Homo sapiens: one gene and its partner. The protein of the gene in region 1 interacts with the protein of each later gene in a pairwise test. Each region holds a gene or a part of one and is shown on either strand. Other genes may lie near its edges. The genes, in order: ITFG1 and SERBP1.

Region 1 (3,502 bases):
AAGAAAAACAGCACTTATCAAGCATCTTCTGTGTACAAACTGCCATTTCAGACTCAGAGCAGTCCTTGAAGGTAGGTATCACTCATTACCTTTGTTTTACAGATGAAGAAACCAAAGTTCAAAGAAGTGACTGATTCAGAGTCATGAAATCGGGGAGCTGGGCCCTGAATCCAGACTGGTCTGACTTCAAAGCCTTGCTCTCTTTCCACTGCAATATTCAAAATCAAAACAAAGGTTTTTGTTAGTGATTCTCAATGTTGTGATACATTTTTTACCTGCTGTCCCTTAATAAATGATATTAAAGTTGCATTTGGAAATACAGAAGCAGTATTAATGTCACTGATTGTAGTTTTAATTGTCATTAACATTTTATTTGTCTTGTAAACTCTGATTCACATGAGTTTGAAGACTCAGGCTATATCAATAATGATCCCAATTATCTTTGAGAAAGTGTCACGTAGTGCCTGGGACAGTGCTGTGGGCTGATAACTAGTGAATTTAACTGAGTATTACAGTCAGGAGAATCCTATCTTGCCCGTGACCCACAGAGAGGCAGTGGGCAAGTCACCTTACCCTGGTCTCCCAGTCCAGATAAATGCTTTCATAAGCTCTAAGGTCTCTTCATGCTCTAAAATAATTATTTAAAAACTCACTGAAATACTTTGTTTCAATAAGGAATATTTATTAAGAAGACATGTTAACATGCTTAGATACAAAGTAAAAACACATGCCAATCTCAGTGAACTATAAAGAAAAAAATAAGAACAAAATTGTTTTCAGAGAAATTTTTGTGTTTTATAGGCATCACATGTCCATTTGCATACTAGAAAATTATTAGCATTGATAAACTTTTTTTTTTCAGTCTTAAAGTCTTTTTAAAGTAACTTTTTGGAAATGTGAAGTTCACAATACAAAATTTGCATTGAAGTCTGAATGTAAATTATAGACTTCTCCAAGTGTTTGAGAATAGAAATGTGATTGAAGATTTGCATTCCCAGATGCTGCCTACAGCAGTTTCCTTTCAAGAAATCAAATGTTCTTCATTATCACATGATAAGGATAAGTTTTTGGAGGAAAATTTTTAGGGCACATTAATTCTTGGAGAGTACTATAATTTTTAGTTAATATGAGCAAGTAAATCTTTATGTCAATCACCAAAAATTTAGCTTTTCCAAAGAATATTTCTTCATGCCTGAAAATAAAATTCTATCAAGTCTATGTATTTCTATAATTAGATGTATAAGTCTAATAAGATCATCTAAAATATTAATAATGACAACTACCACATATTGACCACTTACTCTGTGCTAGGCACCAAGCTAAGCACTTCACATACATCATCCCATTTAATGTTTACAGTAACTCAAGTATTAGCCCCACTGAATAAACAAGAAAACTGAGGTTTACAGAGGTTAAACAAGAGCCAAGTTCAAACAATGACTTTGTAAGTGGTTGAATTAGGAGTTTAAGGCAAGTCTGTCTTACTGTGCTACCAAGTCAGAGTACCCGATCACTATATTGTATGCCATCAGTGAGACCCCTGACCTGCTGTGATGAAGCTGAATGCCTAATGACTCCGTGATATATTCACAAAAGTATAATTTGCATCATTAGAATAAGAAGCAAGACCAAGTCAAGTGGACACAAAAATTCCTGCTCATTTAATTATTTTTATTTACACAACTTTTTCCATCATCATGATGCAAATAAGATTATAAATACACAAACACTGGAGTACATGCAACACATTCCACAAAGGAACAAAAATGTACAGCACTACAGAATAGAGAACCCAAATTTTTATATACAAAGTGCTTTAAAAAAAAAGACCTTGTGACATATTCAAACCATATTTATTTGAATACTTTCCAATAATTACCATGGGATACATCATTTATAAATAATATTTAATCTCCCCTATTTTTTCAAGCCAGAATTTGTGTTTCAACTAATCAAGTGAACAGCCATTCCATTATGTAATATTAAAGGCAAGTCACATAGCATCAAAATGAAACCGGTGGGCTTCTTGTCGTTTTTCTCTATCATCTGCTTTCTGAAAAAGAATTTTAGACTCGTTTATAAATGGTAGAAAGATGTTATGAAAAGACTCATTTCTGAAATACACAGTGATTCATTTTTAAAAGTCTCCAGCAATTAGCAGATAATAGATATGATTTCCTAATTCAACAGTCCTAGTATTTTTGTAGTTTATAGTAGCTATTTTATAATTAATGATCTAATTGATTAAAAAACAATAAATACTTGAATACTTAAGGCACATTAAATACTTAGGGTCCTTAAATACTTAGCTTCTTATCATTTATTATCTACTTGAAAATAGGAATAAGTATTAGATTCTATAAGGATGAATCAATGATTGCATTTTTCTGTCATTTTTAACAATGATGTTAATAAACAAATCTAATGGCTGGGTGTGGTGGTGGCTCATGCCTGTAATCCCAGCATTTTGGGAGGCCAAGGAGGGCAGATAACTTGAGGTGAGGAATTCGAGACCAGCCTGGCCAACATGGTGAAACCCCGTCTCTACCAAAAAAATACAAAAATTAGCTGAGTGTGGTGGTGGGCACCTGTAATCACAGCTTCTTGGGAGGCTAAGGCAGGAGAATCGCTTGAACCCAGGAGCGGAAGTTGCGGTGAGTCAAGATTGCACCACTGCACTCCAGCCTGGGTGACAGAGTACTAATGTACTAATTATTTTTTCATTAACTTGTCAATTTAGCAGATATTCATTGGCCCTTTGCTTCTAATACTCCCAATACCAATACTGTGTTTGCTATTTTAATATTAAAAAAACCTCCGTTTTGTATCTTGTTCTCCAAAAAGACAAATGCAAAACATATTGTATAACTGTAGTTCAAGATAAAAAGTGAAAAATGTTACCAAGTCTAAGAGACTACTTCTAGATCCGGGTGAGGAAAGGGAAAGCTTTGAAAAGACAGGGAAAGCATTTGAAAGTATGGAAATGGGGAGAGTGGTATTCACTCCAAGCTGGGGTTACAACATGATCAATCATGAGAAGGCTGGAAGGAGCACGGATATGTGAAAGCAACTGGTAAAAAATACGACTGTGGAGTCACATGGAAGTCATATGCAGGCCAGGCCAAGGATTTTATACATAAAAGGCAATGGATATTCACTAGAGCTTTTTCAGCAGGGGAGTGACATGATGAAGGCTAAACAGAATGAATCACTGGCAGCAGTGTGCTAAATGGAATGGAAAGGGGAGAGAATGGAAAGGGGAGAGAACGGAAAGAAAGAGACCAAGTAGGATGTAAGAAGGGGCAGTGCAGTAGGAATGTAGAAGTGGAGTCAGCTGTAGAACTTCTTACAGAGGCAGAGTCCATAGGCAAGTGATGAAATCTTGTAGGTTAAGTAAGAGAGATGAAGCTTTAGAATGCTGGTTTTGAGGTGCTGTAAGTCATCTAGGTTGAGCTATCATGGTGACAGTTGGAAATGGGGAAGGACCTTTAGAGATGAGAGC
Region 2 (3,829 bases), on another chromosome or scaffold:
TGCTGCCAAAGTGAGCACTCCCTCATACACTTTATTTTGAGACAAGGTCTTGCTCTGTCATGTAGGCTGGAATGCAGTAGCATGGTCACAGCTTACTGCAGCCTCAACCTCCCCGTGCTCAAGCGATCCTTCTAGCTCAGCCTCCTGAGTAGCTGGAACTACACACCTGTGCCAACTCCTGGACTCAAGCAGCCCTTCTGCCTATGCCTCCCAGAGTGCTGGGATTACAAGTGTCAGCCACCACACCTGGCCTACTTTTTATTGTTATATGGTTGGTTGGTTTTATTTTTTTCTGAATATTTTCGATCTGTGGTTTGCAATAAATTGAAAGCATTGGTTTGAAATAGCAAACATTTAAAAATCACACAATTAGTATATATAATTGATTCTAATTTGCTGGTGTTTTGTGAATTTGTTTTTATGTTTCTAGCCTCCTTTAAAATTTGTATTAGAACATTCTATTGCCTTACAGTGTGTTGGTTTGGTACAAAGGAGTGACATTTAATACTAGTATGAGTTGATGTAAGGGGTGAAAACATGGATAAAAACACAAAAATTTATTTGTACTTTAAAGGCTAGTTATTAACAGCTGTAATATTTTAAGTTGAGTCTAATGGAATTGTAATAGTACAAGTTCTAATGAAAGAACAAAATGTTCTTTATCCCTTTAGAAAAGAAGATTCCTTAGATGTATTTAGGAAAAGAGGAAAAGAAAGCTGTACTTTCAAGTCCTATAAGTACAGTTTTCAACTAGAAGATTAAAACCCATCCCAAGCGTACAAGAAGACATCAGGCATGAAGCAGTATAGAATTGTCTGGCTTTTTGCTTTTTTCCCCCAGACTGGGTCATGTATCTTAAACGCAAATAGAAAAGAGGATCTGGATTTCACAAACATGACTTCATTTTTAAGAAGTTTCTAGCTGGGCATGGTGGCTCATGCCTGTAGTCCCAGCACTTTGGAAGGCCAAGGCCAGCGGATCGCTTGAGCCTAGGAGTTTGAGACCAGCCTGAGCAACACTGTGAAAACCTGTCTATAAAAAATACAAAAAAATTAGCCAGGTGTCATGGCATGTGCCTATAGACCCAGCTACTTGGGAGGCTGAGGTGGGAGGATCGCTTGAGCCTGGGAGGTGGAGGTTGCAATGAACCCAGATCGTGCCACTGCACTCCAGCCTGGGTGACAGAGTGAGACCCTGTCTCAAAAAAAAAAAAAAAAAAAGGTTCCTGTGACACATTTAAGGTGTGGTTTTATTTGTGCATAGCTTTACAAGATTCCCCTCTTTATGTAAAGTGTGTAGTGTTTCACTTGAATTTGTAGCTCTCCAATTTGTGTAGAAAAACGTAGTGGTTGTGTATTAACAGAAAATGCTTCTGAGAAGTTTATATCTAGTAAGGTCTTTACCCTAGTTGTAGTTGGAAGAGTGTAGAACAGAGTTTTTCTTTCTGAGTGTTCTTTTTAACTTCAGTGTTAGTGCTAGTAGTAACCTTATATGTCATCTCTCCAGAGGTCTTCATCAAGGATTCACATGGCAGTCCTGATCTGAAGGGCATATTTAAAATGTACTTGTCCAGATTTCACTGCTAAAGATTATGATTCAGTAGGTCTAGGATGGGCTTCAGCCGTTTGGGTTGATTGTGATAGCATACATGTCTTTAGTTGAGGACTGCTGGTATTACCTGCAATTTTGAGATAGAGAAAAGTGCAGGAAAATCTTCCTCCAGGATCACTAAAGCTGAGCCCTAGCTTGTTACCTGTGGAGGCATTGAGACATTTGTTCACAGAAAGTACAGTTTGGATTTTTGGTTTTTTTTAGAAGAAAGCTCATTATTTAGAAATTTTGCAATGTTACTTTTCTACTAATAACACAATCATCTTCACTTATATTTTTAGGCTCATGCTGAAGATTCGGTTATGGACCATCATTTCCGGAAGCCAGCAAATGATATAACGTCTCAGCTGGAGATCAATTTTGGAGACCTTGGCCGCCCAGGACGTGGCGGCAGGGGAGGACGAGGTGGACGTGGGCGTGGTGGGCGCCCAAACCGTGGCAGCAGGACCGACAAGGTAATTTAAGACTTTCTTTTCCTTTTACATAATTTAAGGACCTCTTATAAGTCACTGGCTGGGTCAGACTTATGTCACTTTTGGGAACATAAGTAGAAGTAGTAGCAGTGTCTTTAAGAAACCGCATGTTAGGTTATATTTATGTTTAAAGCACTTAAATGCCTTTTTGTGTAGTGCTGTTAGTAGTGTTAAGTTACCACCCTTTTGAGTTCTTTCTAGGTGCCGGTCATGGTGCTGGGCTAGGCATTTTATGTACTTAATGTCATTTAATTCTTGTTACTGTGATGACATTCTCATTTTCCAGATGAGAAAATTCTGGTATAGTGAATCAGGTTAACTCTTGGCCTTTGCTAAGGCTTACCTGAAAACCAGTCTGTTCACTTTGATAATTCCTAACTGCTTTTTAGGTCTCCACTTAATAACCATTGTGTTCCTTGTATAATTCCTCTTACGACACTTAGGATTGTTGACACTTTTTTCTTTTACTAGACTCTTCTGTGAGAGCTGGGATTCATTTTTGGCTTACTTTCTATAATCTCTCCAATGCCTTGAACAGTATGTGGCACAAAACAAGTTCTTAGAGAAATATTTTGGTGAATTCCCAAGTAATTGATAGATTTGAACTCAGATCTGATGCTTGGAAACAACCATAATGTCCTCCTAAATTCTCAACACCTTACACACAAATTTGGGGACCCACCTACTTGATTGAGTCTGTTTTTGATGATTACAGGGGTAACTTACCATTGCCAGTGTAATGATACTTTGTTCCTCCCTCTAAGACCAACCTTTTTTTTTTAAGGTGGTGGTTGTGTTGATGGGCTTTTCCCATACTTTCTTTTTTAGTTCTGTTATTTATACTTTAGGCTATAAAGAGCAGTTTGGATTCCTTTTTTCAGACTTTCAACCTTGATGATTATTGCTACTTAGATATTAGTTCCTTAGCATGCTTTCACATTGGTGCCATTCTTATTTAGCAAGTGGAAAAAGTATAAGAATACTGAACAATGCGAATTCACATACATAATTGCTTATGAATCTACTTGTATGGTTTATTGGAAAAAGTAAAACAACTGGGCTGGGCGCACTGCCTCACGCCTGTAATCCCAGTACTTTGGGAGGTCTGGGTGAACAGATCACCTGAGGTTGGGAATTTGAGACCAGCCTGGCCAACGTTGTGAAACCCTGTCTCATTAGCCAGGTGTGGTGGCACATCCCTGTAACCTAGCTACTTGGGAGGCTGAGGCACAAGAATCACCTGAACCCAGGAGGTGGAGGTTGCAGTGAACTGAGATTATGTTACTGCACTCCATCCTGAGCAACAGAGTAAGACTGTCTCCAAAAAAAAAGAGAAAAAGAAAACAACCCATATTATTACTCTGGAATGAAAATAGGCCTTGGTAGAAATTTAGGACAGGGCTCATTGCAAATACTTGTAGTTTTTTTGTGATCCATAATTTTGTCTTGATACATTTTACCTAGAATTTTAACAGTAGGATTTTTTTTTTTTTTTTTTTGAGATGGAGTCTCACTCTGTTTCCCAGGCTGGAGTGCAGTGGCACAGTCTCGGCTCACTGCAACCCTTGCCTCCCAGGTTCAAGCGATTCTCCTGCCTCAGCCTCTTGAGTAGTGGGATCACAGGTGCCTGCCACCACACCCAGCTAATTGTTTATATTTTTAGTACAGACAGGATTTCACCATGTTGGCCAGGCTGGTCTCAAACTCCTGACCTCAGGTGATCCACCCACCTTGGCCTCCCAAAG

Evidence for each region.
Region 2: the proteins of ITFG1 (region 1) and SERBP1 interact in a two-hybrid assay, tested with the Homo sapiens proteins (one large-scale study listed by BioGRID and IntAct).

What each region holds. Positions count from the first base shown.
Region 1 is NC_000016.10:47,153,726-47,157,227, forward strand, and holds the end of ITFG1 (T-cell immunomodulatory protein isoform 1 precursor), read right to left. Parts: intron 2,054-3,502; coding exon 1,994-2,053; 3' UTR 666-1,993; downstream 1-665. UniProt on the Homo sapiens protein: Modulator of T-cell function. Has a protective effect in graft versus host disease model.
Region 2 is NC_000001.11:67,413,403-67,417,231, reverse strand, and holds part of SERBP1 (SERPINE1 mRNA-binding protein 1), read left to right. Parts: intron 1-1,892; coding exon 1,893-2,066; intron 2,067-3,829. UniProt on the Homo sapiens protein: Ribosome-binding protein that promotes ribosome hibernation, a process during which ribosomes are stabilized in an inactive state and preserved from proteasomal degradation.